Regions from separate parts of the Homo sapiens genome. Here region 2 is linked to region 1. The links come from fine-mapping of genetic effects on gene expression. A gene starts in region 1. The other region holds a variant in brackets. All regions are shown on one strand. Distances are from middle to middle.

Region 1 (8,318 bases):
ACTCCATCCGCAGACCCCTGGCTTACACGGCAGGGAGTGTCATGAAATGATCACAATCCGCAGACCCCTGGTTTACACGGCAGGGAGCGTCATGAAATGATCACAATCCGCAGACCCCTGGCTTACACGGCAGGGAGCGTCATGAAATGATCACAATCCGCAGACCCCTGGCTTACACGGCAGGGAGCGTCATGAAATGATCACATTGCCTTCCCTATAGGCCAAGATCAGTCTCAGCACTTCAAATAGTCCCAGGACACAGAGCTTTCAAGGGGAGCAAAAGAAGCTAGTTTATAGATGTAGCCAAAGCCAACACCTCTCTTCCCCCACCCTGGAAGAGAGGCTTGCTGGGGAGAAGCTGTCAGGTGAACAGCCACGAAAAAAGCAGATGCCAGGAGGTGTCCTCTCCACACAGTTCCTGGCTCTTTAGCACCATGAGGCAGGAAAGGAGGCTGCTGGCCTGGGAACTAAAGGCCTCTTCAAAATAAAAATCTGTTATGCTGTGTATGCACAGCACGGTTCCTTCAACCACGAGAGGAGGAGACTCTTGGCAGCAACACTCACGGCATAGCCATTGACAGCAGCGATGACTGGCTTCTTGACCTGGGTGAGGTGGTCCCAGTGCTTCAAGAACTTGCTGGAGTAACAGTCCTGGAAACTCAGGTTCTGCATTTCCTTGATATCAGCTCCAGCTAGCAGGAGTGGAAAGGAGGTTCCAGTTACCAGAGAGCAGAGAGCCCACCCATCCTATATCTCTCAGACCAACAAGGAACTTCAGAGCACACCAGACACAGGCAGTGGGGTTGCTGGGCACGGCTGACACCAGGCCACGTGGACAGCTGTAGGGACGCTGTAATGCCAGCTAGAACAGAAGTCACGCAGAGGGGCCCTGAGGCAGGCAGCAGGTGCAAGGGAGGCGCCCACAGAGGCTAGGCATATTTGTCAGGGCATAAGCCCTTGACACACACAAAGCCTGACTGCCAAGGACCTAAACCCCTTTGAAGAAGCTGTTTTGCTGGTGGAGCACATGCAGCTCTCTGGCATACACAAAGCTGCTCATGCAAGCCGTTCCCATGACCGTCTTCACTCGATATTTGAGGAAGTCCCCAGTCGCATGCCTCTGCCATCACAGAGGCGCAAATCTGTCTGGAGGCTTCTCCCAAGGCCATACGTGCCTCCCACATCTGCCCAGACACAAAGGCCTCTGCTGCCGCGCGTACCTGCAAAGGCCTTATCCCCGCCGGTGAGGACAATGGCCCCCACGGCCGGGTCCTCCTCGAAGGTCTTCAGGGCCTGGTTGAGCTCGTCAATCAGGCCATCGCAAAGTGCATTGAGGGCCTTGGGGCGGTTCAGTTGGATCAACCCCACGGTGTTATTCTTCCCTCTTTTTTCTGCGATGATGTACTCAAAGTTAGCACCTGGAGCAAGAAGGCAAAAAGGGGTATCTATTCACACAGGTATCAAACTGGGGAGAGTGGGGGAAGGGATGTGGCCCCATCGGTGGATACAGTGTGACCCCAAGAGGCCCTCTGAGGGCTCCCTGCCGAGTCCTCAGTGGCTCCAGGTGTAGCTCTCAGCCACAAGGATAGATGGTAGCCTTGGTACCATTCTCTCTGCTTTCACATGTGTTTGAACATGTCCTAAAGAAAATCCCCGGGCCGGGCGCGGTGGCTCACGCCTGTAATCCCAGCAATTTGGGAGGCCGAAGCGGTCGAATCACAAGGTCAGGAGATCGAGACCATCCTGGCTAACACGGTGAAACGCCGTCTCTACCTAAAATACAAAAAATTAGTCGGGTGTTGTGGCGGGCGCCTGTAGTCCCAGCTACTGGGGAGGCTGAGGCAGGAGAGTGGCATGAACCCAGGAGGTGGAGCTTGCAGTGAGCTGAGATCATGCCACTGCACTCCAGCCTGGGTGACAGAGTGAGACTCCGTCTCAAAAAAAAAGAAAAGAAAAAAAGAAAAATCCCCAGCACAGAACACAGCCCACAGCCGCTTTCCTTCTCCTAATATGCCTTGGTCAGCTCTTCCCAGGACACCACTCTGGAGACAGCCCTGGACTCTGCTGAGACAAGGCACCAGGAAACACCTTCTTTCAACAAATGCCAACAGGTGAGGGGGTGTAAGGCAGCTCCTTGCACTTGGTACCGCCCCAGTGCCAAGACCTCTGGCCAACTGGACGCAGGGTGGGGGATGTGAAAATCCTGGGTGTTCCTGCAGCATTAAGATCAGGCACAGGTCCGGAGCAGCAGGCCAGCCCGAAAATGGGAGACGCAGGCGCTTCTCGGTTGGCCTGCTGCACAGGACCTGCGCCTGCTGGGTGGACAGCAAGGTGGGAAGGAGACAAAGGACAATGGCGTTCCAGGGGTGAGAAGGTGAACCTGAAAAGACAAAGGTAGCCTGTGTGTTGGATGCTTGCCTCCGTTAGTGGCAGAGCAGGGATCATAGTCCCTGTGCTATGGGTTTCTTTTTTTTGGAGACCGAGTCTCACTCTATTGCCCAGGCTGGAGTGCAGTGGCGCAATCTTGGCTCACTGCGACCTCTGCCTACAGGGTTCAGGTGATTCTCCTGCCTCAGCCTCCCGAGTAGCTGGGACTACGGTCACACACCACCACACCTGGCTAATTTTTGTATTTTTAGTAGACATGGGGTTTCACCATGTTGGCCAAGGTGGTCTTGATGACCTCAGGTGATCCACCTGCCTCAGCCTCCCAAAGTGCTGGGATTATAGGCATTAGCCACTGTGCCCCGCCGTATCCTGTGGGTTTCTAGGGGTAACTGGAAGATCACAGGTGAAGTGTCTGGCAGCAGTGCCCGCCATGCAAGATCCAGGAAAGGGCTGCTGTCAGGGTGGAGAAGCCGAAGGCCAAGGAGAGCATGGAGATGAAACCAACACAACTCAGTGGTCCACTGCTACACAGGGTGAGGGAGGAAGAGGAAGCAAGAGTTCTTCCCCAGCCCAAGGCATGGCCCAAGATTCCTCAGATACTAGAGCCGGTGATGGCCGCTCATGAGTGGGGCCCCGGGTGAGCCACGAGGGAGGAAGAGGGCAGCCCCCTGTGGCTGGGGAGGAGGTGTCAGCTTTTCCCTTAGGACCCTCTGAGGGGTGGCCCTGGTCAGGAGGCACCCAGGACAAAATGCACCTGCATCTCCTGTTCTCGGGCTGGCCGGCTGCACAGGAGCTACGCCTGCTCTTAGAGCCGAGGGAACACCCCGGATTTTTACAACCCCCACCCTGCGCCCAGTTGGCCAGAGGTCTTGGCACTGGGGCAGTACCAGCCAGCCGCCGGGCCTCCCGCAGGACGTGGCCTGGTGAGAGTGGCCTCCTGCAGAGCCAGGCAGGGGGTGGGGGTGCGGGCCAGGGTCAGGTGGGTGGTGTCGGTGCGGGGTGGCGGGTGGTGGGGGGGTGTTAAGCCTGGGTCAGGCTGTGGGTGCGGGTCAGGTGGGGGGTGCAGCACTAGGCGAGGGGGGTGTTGCAGGCCTGAGCCAGGCAGGGGCTGCGGGTCGGGGTCAGGTGGTAGGTGCGGGGTCAGGCAGGAGAGTGCGGAGTCAGGCCCTGGGGATGCGGGATCGGACGGAAGAGGGGTGCGGGGTCAGGCCGGGGGGTGCGGGGTCAGGTGGGGGGGTGCGGGGTCAGGCGGAGTGGGGTGCGGGTAGGGGTCAGGCCGGAGGGTGCGGGGTCAGGTGGGGGGGTGCGGGGTCAGGCGGGGGGGTGCGGGGTCAGGCGGAGTGGGGTGCGGGTAGGGGTCAGGTGAGGGTGCGGGGTCAGGCGGAAGAGGGGTGTGGGTTGGGGTCAGGTGGGGGATGCGGGGTCAGGTGGGAGGGGGGTGCGGTCTGGGATCTGGTCTGGGCGTGCAGGTCGGAGTCAGGAGGAGATTCGGGCCGCCAGCTCTCACCGCGCACTCACCCGAGGCGAAGGGACGCCAGGCGGGACAGCGAACCGGGGGCCTCAGCGGGCCGCGGACGCAGGACAGCAGGACACGCAGGGCGGCCATGGCTCTCTGGACTCCTCGCCCGGCCCCGCGGAGCCGCCCCCTCGCCTATAGCCTTTCAGGGCTCGCTCCGCCCACAGGCCAGCGCCGCGAGACCAGGCGGCCCTCGCGAGATCAGCCCGGGCAGAGTGAGCGGGTCGCTCTCCGCCAGGCCCCGCCCCCAGGCCCGAGCTGCCGCTCGCGGATCTAAGGCCGAGGGGCGTCCCCGGGACCCCGCCCTGGGCTGGGACCAGCGCCCTCCAGGCCCCGCCGCAGTCGCCCGCGCCCCCGCCCCCGCCCCAGCCCTCGGGGTCCCAGCTGGCCCCGGGGAGACCGCGCGGAGGCGGAGGCAACGGCGGCGCCTGCCGGGCTCTGCGCCGCCTCCCCCCGCCCGCCTGCCCGCCTGCCCGCCTGCCCGCCTGCCCGCCTGCCCGCCTGCCCGCCTGCCCGCCGGCGTCTGTAGCAGCGGACACAGCGCGCCCAGGCGCAGGGCCAGGCACGGTGGCAGCGGCGTGGGCACTGAACGCCACATTAGGAGGAGTTTTATTTTCATGCACACAAGACTTCAACAGATTTAAATAATAAAAATTTCATTCATTTAAGTTATTTTATTTATACCTTTTAAATATCTAGACAAGTATTGTGGAGCATCCATTTGTGTACTTGCCCGGATTCTGCAAACGCCAGGGTGGAGATAAAACCACCCTGGATAAAATGGAATGGAAAGCGAAACTGCTATTGTGACCGGTGGAGGGTGTCCAGGTTCTTGACGTCTTGAACAAAGAACTGGACAAAACGCACAAACAAAGCACGGAAAGAAGGAAGCAACAAAAGCGAGATTTATGGAAAACAAAAGTGTGGCCGGGCGCGGTGGCTCAGGCCTGTAATCCCAGCACTTTGGGAGGCCAAGGCGGGCAGATCACCTGACGTCAGGAGTTTGAGACCAGCCTGGGCAACATGGTGAAACCCCCCTCTCTACTAAAAACACAAAAATTAGCCGGGCGTGGTGGTGCACGCCTGTGGTCTTAGCTACTCGGGAGGCTGACGCAGGAGAATTGCTTGAATCCGGGAGGCGGAGGTTGCAGTGAGCCGAGATCGCACCACTGCCCTCCAGCCTGGGCGATAGAGCCAGACTTCGTCTCAAAAAAGAAACAAGAAAAGACAACGAAAATAACTCCACACTGTGGGAGCGGCTGAGCATAGCGGCTCAAGAGCCCCGTTACAGATTTTTTGGGGGGGTTAAATACCCTCTAGAGGTTTCCATTGGTTACTTGGTGTACGCCCTGTGTAAATGGAGAGGACACTTCTTGTCATAGCGGAAGTGTTTCCATTTGATTTAGTTCTAGGGAGTCAGCATGAATTGGCCTCCAGACCCTGTTCTCCTGCCTCACTATGTTCAAGAAAATAATTCAATTCAAACCAAAAATGAACATGCACCAAAATTTTATTTCAAGACCGAGGGTAAAAATGAAGACATCTCGTGTAAGTAGAAACAAATCAACAACAAACCTCAACAAACCTTTAGTAAACGATGCTCTATACTAGTGTAGTTAAACCTCTGGGACAGACAGGCCCAAAATGAAATGGCTCAGACAGAAAAGAGGTTTATTTCCTTCCTTCCTTCTCCTTCACCTTCTCTTCTTTCCTTTCTTTCTTGTCTCGCTGTCACCCAGGCTGGAGTGCAGTGGTGTCATCCCGGCTCATCATAGCTTGCGCCTCCCGGGTTCAAGCGATTCTCCTGCCTCAGCCTCCTGAGTAGCTGGAACTACGGGTGCTTACCACCATGCCCGGCTAATATTTGTAGTTTTTTAGTAGAGTCGGGAGTTTTGCCATGTTGGCCAGGCTGTTCTCGAACTCCTGACCTCAAGTGATCCACCGGTCTCGGCCTCGCAAAGTGCTGGAATTACAGGAGTGGACCACCGTGTCCGCCAAGAGGTTTCCTTTCTAACGACCCAGGAGGCCGGGCAGCTCCCGTCCTCCATCAAGTAATGTAGCCACAAAAGCACAAGCAACAAAGGGAGAACATATGTAAATTGGATTTCACCAAAATTTAAAACTTTTATGTCTGAAAGGACACTACCAAGATAGTGAGAGGACTGAACAGACATTCCTCCAATGAAGATAATCAGTGTCAGATAAGCTCAGCATCACGAATCATTAGGGAAATGCAAACTGACCCCTCAGTGATACGACGTCACACCTACTGTGCTGGCTGCAATAAAAAGCCCAACAGTCACAGCGGGTTGTGGGGGACGTGAGCGGGGAACGCTGGTACACTGCCAGCGGGAATGGAAAATGGTGCAGTCACTTTGGAAAACAGTCTGTTGTTTCCTCAAAAGGTCAAACAGCAACTCCACTCTTAGGTGTACACCTCAGAGAAATGAAGACAAATGTCCACAAAAACTTAGACATGAACGTTCATAGCAACATTATTCATAATAGCCAAAAAGAGGGAAAAAGCCAATTGTCCATCAACTCATGAATGGATAAACAAAATGTCATATATCCAAACAATGGATACATTAGAATGTATTAGACTATACAATGGACTCTATTCAGGAGTAAAAAAGAAAGAAGCGCTGATACACATTACAAAATGGACAAGCCTTGGAAATGTTATGCTCAGTAAAAAAAGCCAGACACAAAGGCCGTGCATTGAATAGGTTCCATTTCTATGAAATGTACAGAACAGGCAAATCCACAGAGACAGAAACTAGATTAGCGGTCACCAGGGGCTGGAGGGAGGGGTAATGGGGGGGACTGCTGAGGGGCATCCCCATTTGCTTTTTAGGGTGATGAAAATGTCCTAAACTTGGGGCCAGGCGCAGTGGTTCACGCCTGTAATCCCAGCACTTTGGGAGGCCAAGGCAGGTGGATCACCTGAGGTCAGGTGTTCGAGACCAGCCTGGTCCAACATGGTGAAACTCCGTCTCTACTAAAAATACAAAAATTAGCCGGGCGTAGTGGCACATGCCTATAATCCCAGCTACTCAGGAGGCTGAGGCAGGAGAATTGCTTGAACTTGGAAGGCAGAGGTTGCAGTGAGCCAAGGTAGTGTCACTGCACTCCAGCCTGGGCAACAGAGCAAGACTCCATCTCAAAAAAACAAAACAAAACAAAAAAGTTCTAAACTGGATGATGGTGACAGTGGCACAACTCTGTAACTAAACTGAACACCATTGAATTGAACACTTTAAACGGGAGAAGTCTTACAGCATGATGTCTATATCAATAAAGCTATTTTAAAAAATGAACAAGCCTGATTCAGTCAAAGCCACATGGGTAGTTGCCACCTTGATCACCATAGGTGGCATCACCCAAGGCCCTCTGGAGCTAGGAGAAGCACATACCTTGTACCAGTCAGATGGAAAAGAGGTTGTGTCCGTGTGTTCCAGCTGGTGGCTCTGGCATGGCAGGATTGTCCAGGACTGGCCGTGGTCACGTGCACTCTCCATTTCAGAGCAAGGGGGACGAGCGACTAACCCAGCCCCAGGTCAGCGCGTCAGCGGCCCGTGCTATTGGATTCAGGCTGTGGCACCACATCCAGGGGACAAAGAGCGCGTCGGTTGTCCCCACCCTGCAGCTCTTGGGTCCATGTCTTCTCTCTCCGCGCCATAAAGCCAGAGTTCCCATTTCAGTCACTACAATCACCCCTCCTTGCACCAGGCCTTCCAGGTGTGGGGCATGGGCATGTTTACCTCTGGCCTGTGTGGACCGCTGTGGGGAGGCTTGGCCAGCAAGTTGCTGAGCCAAGTATCTTTTATGGGATCCTGCCGCTCCACAGGAGGATCCGGGAGGCTGAACTAGAGTTAAGTTAGAATCTTTCGGTTCCCCTTCGGGCTGGGCTCCCCGCAGGAACCAGGAACGGGCTGGCCAGGAGGACATGATGGACCGGGAGAAGGTGACAGAGGCAAAGCCAGACCCTTCCTGTTCCATCTTGCAGAGGCTGTCCCAACGCGAGGTGAGGCCAGGTGCCTGGGGGACATCGATGCCTGACCAGAGCCCAGCCTGGACAGCCTTCCAGCAAAGGCTGGGCACTGGCCGACCGTAACGGCCCAGGAGAATGAGGACACGGGAGTCTCGGGGCTGGAGGAGCTGGCTGACCAGATGGTGCCTGACACGGTGCTGAAAACAGGGCAGCAGTCCCCAGAGGCTGAGGGGCCAAAGTAGCCTGTCCACCCAGAGTGGCGAGGCCCACGCCTGTGCAGGAGGCCTGAGGCATGGGGTGGCCTCCCTCACAGCTGTGCCCACCCAGCCTGTGCGCAGGGCGATGTGCTCCTATGTCTGGGCAGTGAGCTGGGCCCTGCGGCGAGAGCAGCAGCAGCTCGATTTCACACGGAGCCACTAG
Region 2 (8,318 bases), 92 kb before region 1:
TTTCCCCTCTCCCCACAATCCAGCATCCTCCCTTGCACAGGTGAGGAAACTCAGGCACAGCCTGTCCCAAGTCCGGCCAGAGCCCCGAGAGGGGGCCTCTCGAAGGACCCGGCGGCTGGAAGGAGGTGGCGCCAGGCAGGTCCTGGAGGGGAAGGGACTTGTGAGGGCCGCCTGGCGGTTTCAGGAGAGGGGGTCTCTGATTTCCTGGGGAACAGAAAGCCTCAGGCAGGGGCAAGTCATGGCTTTGTGGGCATAGGTTCAGCCCTGTGGGAAGCTCTGCCACCCTCCCCCCCAAGCCTGCGCCCCCTCCACCAGGCTGAGGCCTCACCGGAGTGGGATAGGCATGGGCCCGCAGGCGTCCAAGTGGGGAGGGGGAGCCCTAGGTGGGGGTCCCAGCCCAGGTGATGGCAGGTGCAGGGGCCGTCCCTAGCCTAAGATCCCCAGACAGCAGCTGACGCTGGCCGACGTGGACCAAAGCCTGCAGCAGCCCACCGTGGCCTGGCTCCGGCGTCTCCAGGCCTGCGGCCAAGCGTGCTTGCCCTTGGTGACCACATTCCCCGTGGTGGGCTCAGCCTCGAGGGTGCAGGTTTGGGCTGACACCACAGCTCCCCAGACGGTCCACCCAGGACCCCTCCCTGGGGCTTTCACAGCCAGGCCGCCCTCCTGGAGTGGGAACAGTGGTGGTGGCAGGAAAGGCAGCTCAGATGACCACACAGGGCGCTGCTGACAGATCACATGGGGGGGGGGGGCCTCAGGGCCTCCCTGGGGAGAGGCAGGGCAGGGCCAGCAAGGGGCTGGAGGGAGTCCTGCCTGGAGAGAGGGCACCAGGGCAGGGCGAGTCAGGGAACTGCACGGGCCTAGGGGCAGAGGACAGAGGTCAAGGGGCAGTGGCAAGAAGAGGCCGGGGCCTCGGACGTTATCCTGGGAGGACAGGGAACCCGGAGGATCTAAGCTGGCGTGAGTGATGCTGTCACATTTTGTCTCAAAGCCATTCTTACCCTAATGTGAATGGCATGAAAAGCAAGAAAGCAAGGGCTGGCACTGGGCCGCAGGTGACTTCTGCTGCCTGGGGGTGTGTCCGCTTGCCTGTGTGGCACAGGACGAGGTCCCCCAGGCTGCCGAGAGGCTCCCAGGTAGGGCTGGGGATACTGGCCTGTGCCTGAGCTCATGCAGGTGACCCTGTTATTATAGAACAATGGCCAGCTGGCAATCACACTTCCCTTCCTTGACCTCATGGTGCAAGTTACTCAACAGCAAAGTGCAAAGGCGGCACGCTGGCCACATCAGAGGCACAGCAAGGCCCCTGCCGACGCTGAGCTACCAGGGATTTATTCCTAAAAAGACAGGACCAGCTTGGGCCAGAACAGGCTCCTCCCGCGCTGAGGAAGTTCCACCCAATCCCACAGAACACAGCTCTCCTCTTCAGCAGGTGCCGGGGGGTCTGGGAGCCTGAACCCCACAGCCCTGGAGGCTTCCCTCCCCTCCTCCTATCACCACCTGCAAACCCCACTTCTCAAGGCCCAGGGCTTCCCAGACCCCAGGACACAAGATCAGGGGTTTCTGGGCCTCGGGGCCAGGCAGGAAAGCTAGCAGGCTCCTCTGCTCACCAGTCCGGCATTTGCACAACACTGAGACTGACAGCTTGGGTTGCTGATAAATGTGTTTACTCACAGGCCAGACCTGCACAGCCTGCAGACAAGGAGGAAGCGGTTTGTGGCTGGAGAGTTGGACACCCCCACCCCCACTCGGCGGTGCTCTCAGTGAGGCAGCCCCGGGTGAGAGCTGCCCACAACCCTTGTTCCCCGCAGGATCCTGTTCTAGCTATCCTTTCTCCCAACCTCGCCTCCAGGGCCCTTCCTCACTGCCCAAGGGGGCCGAGGTGCTGAGAGCTGAAGGTGACAACAATACACATGCAGGTCAGCAGGAAGGGGCAGCTTGGCCAGAATGTAACCAGAGCAGACCAACCTGGCCGGGCAGCCCTGAGGCTCCCAGGGCCCTGTCACACTGGGGATGGCGGTGCTGCCCACTGTAGCCCTGGAGGTGGGAAGACAGGGCAGATGATCGCCCGAGGGGGATTGGGTGTCAGTCTGCTGAGTAAGTTCTACGTAACAAGGCGGTACCGGATAGGGCGGGGTGGGGTTTCCAGCCAGCAGCAGAGCCTGCCCCTCGACCCACTCCCACGGAGGGGGAGGTGTGGGCTCCCAGGGTGCCTGAGGGCCCTGTCTGTGGCCTCCTGCCCTGGACCAGTTGGAGCAGCAGCAGGAGGAGGGTCGTGGAGGCGGGTGAGTCCTCAGGAGAAGGAACGGGGCTGCCTCTGGGGCCAAAGCAAACCCGACACCCGATGCCCGGTGGGTTTCCACAACTCCCTGACCGTTTCCAGAGGCTTGTCCCGGTTCCGACAGACCTCAGGAAGCCCGGCCCCAGCTCACCCGGAAAGATGTGGACACCAGGCCTGGATCTTACCCCACATGCATCTTTGCTTGCTCCTGGCTTAAACACCATGTATTTCCACTTTGAGGCCAAAAACACCCAAAAAGGTGATAGTGTAATTTCAAAAAGCAAACAGATTAGCAAATCCAGGGAGACATCCACCCTGCCTGGGCAGCTTCTATAAAACGAAACCCAGCGCCTTGAGAAACAAAGTGAGCTGAGTCAATCATTCCTGCTTTATATTTAAACTGCAAAGACAGAACACAGAGCATTCGATTTGAAAATTCTGGACCCATTTGCACCAGTCCCTGCTGACCCCACACCCTTCCTTCCTGTCACAGCCAGGGCTCACTGTGCGGTGACTGCGACCCTGGGTGCAGGAGCCGGGGGCCCCCGCAGGACAGGCACTTGGGGGGTGGCCTTCTGGCTCCTCTCTGCAGACAGGCGCTCCAGGCGCTCCGTGTAGAAACCATTGAAGTCAAGCCTGTGAGGAAGGACAGTGGAGCTGGGGTGCACACCCCTTCTGCGGGTGCATGCTGGGCAGCAGGGGTGTGGAAGGACGGTGCAGCTAGGGTGCACACCCCTTCTGCGGGTGCGTGCTGGGCAGCAGGGGTGAGGAAGGACAGTGGAGCTGGGGCACACACTCCTTCTGCGGGTCCGTCCTGAGCAGCCCTGCTCCTACCATGGGGAAGTGTTCAGCTACAGAGACCATAAGAGGCCCTGCAGGGGTGAGGGTGAGGCACGCTCCTAACTAATGTTTCCACAGGAAGGTTTTCAGTCCTGTTCAGTCCTGCTCAAAGGCACAAACACAGGTTTCTTCTCTCCTGGCCCCAGAAAGTTGGGGCTCCCATCACCCCAACAGGGCCTAGCAATGGGGCCTGAGGTGTCAGGGGCTTGGAGAACCAAGCAGTGGTTCTCAATGCAGGGTGGCCTCAGAAATCCCTGCTCAGAAAATCAGAACATTTGTGGGGGGCACAGGGCACAGGGTGGTCCAAAAGCACAAATAGGCACCTTCCCAAGGACAGCACCCCCAAGGGCACCACCCCTTCCAGGCTGGCAGTTTGGCCACCTGGCCCTTTCCCCCAGGCTAGGTGTTAGTGCAGCATGAGGGAAGCTGACCCAGGCCTGATCAGCCCCACAGGACACACACAGCCGCAGGGTGCCAATGGGGCAGCCCAGTTGCACAGAATGTCACACCCCAGGGAGAGCTGGGCTAGCCTGACTTCAGGGAGTGGCATATGACCAGCACTAGCACCAGGACACAGACCTGCCCCACCTTCTGAAGGAGGCTACACCAGGTGGACCAGGGGAGGGTGCAGGGGAGATGGGGCCTGGATGCAGGGACAGGTGCTGAGCTGGGGTGGCGCTGGGCTGGGGCAGATGCTGGGCTGAGCTGAGGAAGGGCTGAGCCGGGGCAGGCGCTGGGCTGAGCTGGGGGAAGGCTGAGCCGGGGCAGCACTGGGCCAGGGCGGTGCTGGGCAGGGGCAGGCGCTGGGCTGAGCTGGGGGAAGGCTGAGCCGGGACAGCACTGGGCCAGGGCGGTGTTGGGCAGGGGCAGGTGCTGGACTGAGCTGAGGAAGGGCTGAGCCAGGGCGGTGCTGGGCAGGGGCAGGTGCTGGGCTGAGCTGGGGGAAGGCTGAGCCGGGGCAGCACTGGGCCAGGGCAGTGCTGGGCAGGGGCAGGTGCTGGGCTGAGCTGGGGGACGGCTGAGCAGGGACAGCACTGGGCCAGGGCGGTGTTGGGCAGGGGCAGGTGCTGGACTGAGCTGAGGAAGGGCTGAGCCAGGGCGGTGCTGGGCAGGGGCAGGCGCTGGACTGAGCTGAGGAAGGGCTGAGCCGGGGTGGCGCCCACCCACCTGGAGATGACGCTGGCCATGCCGTGCTCACAGTCACTGGTGCTATAGATGCTCAGCCGGGCCAGGAGGTCCAGCAGGTGGGCTGAGAAGTTCTTGTCAAACTTGTTGATGGTGGCCTCGAAGCCGGACACCAGCTGCACAGTGTCTG[C/T]GTGCTCAGCCAGGTGCTGGAAAGAAAGCCGGGGTGCGTGAGCCATGCCCACCCCCACCGTGGGCCTTCTTGGCTCCACACTGTTCCCAGCAGGCCGGTGTCCTTTCCCTTCCCCTTTTCTTAAATAGAAAACATGGGTTCCATGATGTTTTCAGGAGATTCAAGGTAAAAAAGACATCAAAAAACATTCCTGAGAACCCAGCACTCAGAGAAACACTCCAGGCCTCGTGGGATGAGGTGGTCACTCTCCTTTGGGGTGAGATGAACGAGCTTTCCCAGCAGCTTTCTCAGCAAGGAGGTCGGGGCGCCTCTCAGTGTCCCTCACCTCCGGCCCCCACGCTTCCAAACCCAACTCCTCTCTGCCAGCTCCAGCTCCAGCGTGTGAACACGGGACTGCCCACCCCACCATGCCACCCCGGAGCCGGCGCCGCAGGGCCATGCCTCCGAGGACATGCAGCCTGTCCGTGCCTGCTGAGAGCCTGACGGTTCTAACTCAGGACCGAGCTCAGCAGGGACAGCGGGTGTGGCCCCTGCCCTCGCCCAGGCGCCCTGCACAGCGCTCGCTCTGAAGATCTGTGGGGGTTCCCTCGAGCCCGACTGGCTGAAGTGGGGACCAGAGAGCTGAGAAGATTGTGAGAGGCTCTTGTGCTTGTGCTTGGAAGCTAATTTTAAGTCTTTTCTTCAATCTGAGGGGAGATGGAAGTAAAAGGGGGGAGGTTTGTTCTCCCTGCGTCAGGATGCCCAGGCTGCCGCCCAGCCGGGAGGAAGCGTCTCTCTCTGGCCAAACCTGGAGGCCACGCACCTTCCTGGCGAGCTCCTTCCGGGCCCGCTCCTCGGCCCCTGCGGGCAGCCCCAGGACGGTGCTGTGCTCCAGCGTCTGCCCGCCCAGCTCGCCATCTAATTTCATGCTCTGTGTAAATTTCTAGGGGGGGAGAGTCGCAAGGAAATGCTTCTGTTAGTTACAACCACAATGCTTTGCAGAAAAAACAAGTCCTGCAGGCACGTCACCCTCCGCACCTCTGTTGTAGCCTGCGGCTGGGGGTACACAAGCATCTCTGAGGCTGCAGGGGAAATGACTTATCTGTGCCGACAGAATTCCCAGGTCTACCTTCCACGGTGACCAGCTGATTTTCCTGAGAACAGTTATTTTGGTGTTTCCCTATTTGGGACCCTGAAGTGGCCATGCCCTCCTCCACCTCCCCACTCGCCCTCCTCCGGACCCTCCCCATGGCACTGCCTGGAGAGCCTCATTCTCAGACCCCTGCTTCTGCCACTAGACACGCAGGTTCTGCACCATCGCCAGTCGGCAGCTGCTTGTGACTAGTGCCTGCAGGTCCTTAACGGAATCAAATAGCTCAAGTGCTGAGGAAAAGAGCATGCAAGGGCCATAAGCAAAGGCCCCGGACAGAGACCAGCACCACAGAGGCTGAGGGATGGTTCGGGAGGAACACAGCCCTGCCCACGCTGCCAGGGCAGGGGCTCCAGGAGGGAATCACCCGGCCAGGAAGACCAGGAGTTCTGGAAACACTCAGATCCCAGCGGCTCCTCCACGAACACAAGGGCAGGAAAACGTGAGCAGGCTGCGTGCGGCCACGGTCGGGACATGGTCTGCCCACCCGCGCCTGCCCACCCGATGGTGCTACCCACACCCACGCACCTGCATGCAGTTGGTGAACATGACGCACACAGACATGAGCTTGGAGAAGACCTTCAGCAGCTCGGGGTTGGTGAGCATGCAGTCCTTCAGGCAGGTGTCCAGGAAGCCTGTGTGGTGGCCAAGGACGTCGTCAATGTTGGAGGCCTGCGGGGAACAGGCCAAGCCCCTTCTCAGAAAGACGTGGCTGACAGACGGGCCCTGCATGCGCACGTGCTCAGTTCTGGCTTTGTGCATTCCTGTTTACGCACTTCTACCTCTTAAATGGGCCTTGGGCTTTTAGGGGAAAACTTCCAAACACCACTAAAAAAATGATGGGCACACCCCGAAGGGGTTTCATTTCTTAAGGCAGAAGACAGGAAGGGAGGCTGCGGCAGCTTCTGGAATTTGGTACCAACAGATTCTGCCTTCAGGCCCCTCAGCCTCAGATGCGCAATGTGGGAGAGACAACCTCGGGGCAAAGACGGCTCAGAGTCCCCCTAGGACGGCAGGCAGCAAGGGGTCCCGTGTGTGGCCAGCAGTGTGGGTGCAGCCCCGCCCTGGGGGATCCCTTCCTCTCCCCTTGCCCTGCCTCTCCTGCACTCCGTGTCTCCCTGCACTCCCTGCCTCTCCCGCATTCCCTGCCTCTCCCGCACGCCCTGCCTCTCCCGCACTCCCTGCCTCTCCTGCACTCCCTGCGTCTCCCTGCATTCCCTGCCTCTCCTGCACTCCCTGCCTCTCCCCTCGCCCTGCCTCTCCTGCACTTCCTGTCTCCCTGTGAAAGGAAAGTGGCTTTCAAACGTTATTATCTGTGGAGCTAAAACTCACGGATTTCAGGTTTTTCTCCAGGATGTGCCAGGTCGGTTCCATCACTTCAAACATCATGTAGTATTGAATATTCTGGACGAAGTTGAGCATTCGCTGCCGCAGAGTGAAAGCCCCAGCAAACCTGAGTGACACGGAGGACGGAGGACAGCCATGGAGGACGCGGCCCCGACAGCGCCCACCAAGTGACACGGAGGACGGAGGACAGCCATGGAGGACGTTCTCTGGACGTGGCTATTTCCTCTGCAGAGCAAGCGCCCCTCCCAGCACACCAGACACTCACGGCCGCTGCTCCTGCGTCTGCCCAGCACAAGCTGTCACCGTCTACCAACCTGTGCCCTGCAGGGACACCCCCAGCCAGCTGGACGGTGGAGACTGGGACGCGGGCTCCTTGGTGGACGGACCCCTCGGAGCCCACGCCAGGAAAGTGCCACACAACAGATGCATATTTGTGCTTCATCATCAAGATGAGTTCTTTTTCTTCTAATTTCTTTTTTTCTTCGAGAGACAGGGTCTTGCTGTCGCTCAGACTGCAGTGCAGTGGCACGATCTTGGCTCACTGCAGCCTTGACCTCCTGGACTCAAGCAACCCTCCCACCTCAGCCTCCTGAGTTGCTGGAACTACAGGCATTCCCGGCTAATTAAAATAATTTTCTTTTTTTTTAAGAGATGAGCTCTTGTTACATTGTCCAGGCGGGTCTCGAACTTGTGGGCTCAAACAATCCTCCCTCCTCAGCTTCCCAAAGTGCTGAGATTACAGGCATGAGCCACTGCACCCGACTGGACAAATTCTTATGAAGCTCTGCCATCGACCCCTTTTTTCAACACCCTAGAGGCACAGACCGGCTGCAAAGCACCTCTGGTCCCAGCAAGATGTGGCTGTCCGCTCTCGGGAGGAGCTAGTGTCCTGCACACCGACCTGGGCAGTCTCCATGCCCGTGCAGTCACCACAAGGCTCCAGAGAGGGCTGAGGGACAGAGCCAGCATCCCCTGTGGGGTGGACGGCAGCGCCGTGCAGCCCCAAGACAGGAAAATGAAGCAATGAAGCATTATGGATCTAAAGCCACCAACGTGCGCTTCCAGATGACACTTCCAGAAGCCTAGAAAGCTGTCTACCAGGAGGGCACAAGGGGGGCGCTGCACCACTGGGCAGAGTGCAGCGAGCGCTGCTTCAGGAGGGCATGCGGGGGCAGAGGAAGAACGCACCACTGGGCGGAGTGCAGCGAGTGCTGCTTGGCGGTTTTGTTGCTGATCCAGACGCTGCAGAGCTGCCGCTCCACGTGCTTGCAGTAGAACATGTGCCTGAAGAGCATCTGGTAGCGAGTGAGGGCTTTCCTGCAAGAGACGTGGCGGCACCTCAGGTGGGCCTCCGTGACCGGCGGCGTCGTGGACACGGCGTCTGTACTCCACAGTCCGCACCGTGGCCC

What was found.
Region 2: its variant is fine-mapped to the expression of ECHS1 in whole blood (INTERVAL, PIP 0.96).

The regions. Positions count from the first base shown.
Region 1 is chr10:133,369,340-133,377,657 of GRCh38, forward strand. ECHS1 (enoyl-CoA hydratase, short chain 1) reads right to left here and starts at 4,015. Exons shown (of 8, transcript NM_004092.4): 1 at 3,907-4,015; 2 at 1,221-1,418; 3 at 565-692. The coding sequence starts at 3,994. It overlaps MIR3944 (microRNA 3944), which reads right to left and starts at 2,324; the gene lies at 2,217-2,324. It overlaps LOC124902563 (a long non-coding RNA gene), which reads right to left. Exons shown (of 2, transcript XR_007062395.1): 1 at 7,321-8,318; 2 at 5,397-5,867. RefSeq lists a silencer at 3,778-4,287 and an enhancer at 4,669-4,758.
Region 2 is chr10:133,276,988-133,285,305 of GRCh38, forward strand. TUBGCP2 (tubulin gamma complex component 2) reads right to left here. Exons shown (of 18, transcript NM_006659.4): 13 at 8,098-8,226; 14 at 6,895-7,015; 15 at 6,091-6,234; 16 at 5,236-5,355; 17 at 4,286-4,449; 18 at 1,648-2,914. The coding sequence ends at 2,779. Among named protein-coding and RNA genes, the nearest start is that of ADAM8, 4.3 kb to the left of the region's middle. RefSeq lists a silencer at 1-130 and enhancers at 1,286-1,335, 1,826-1,905. The variant C/T (reference allele first, on the strand shown) is at 4,434.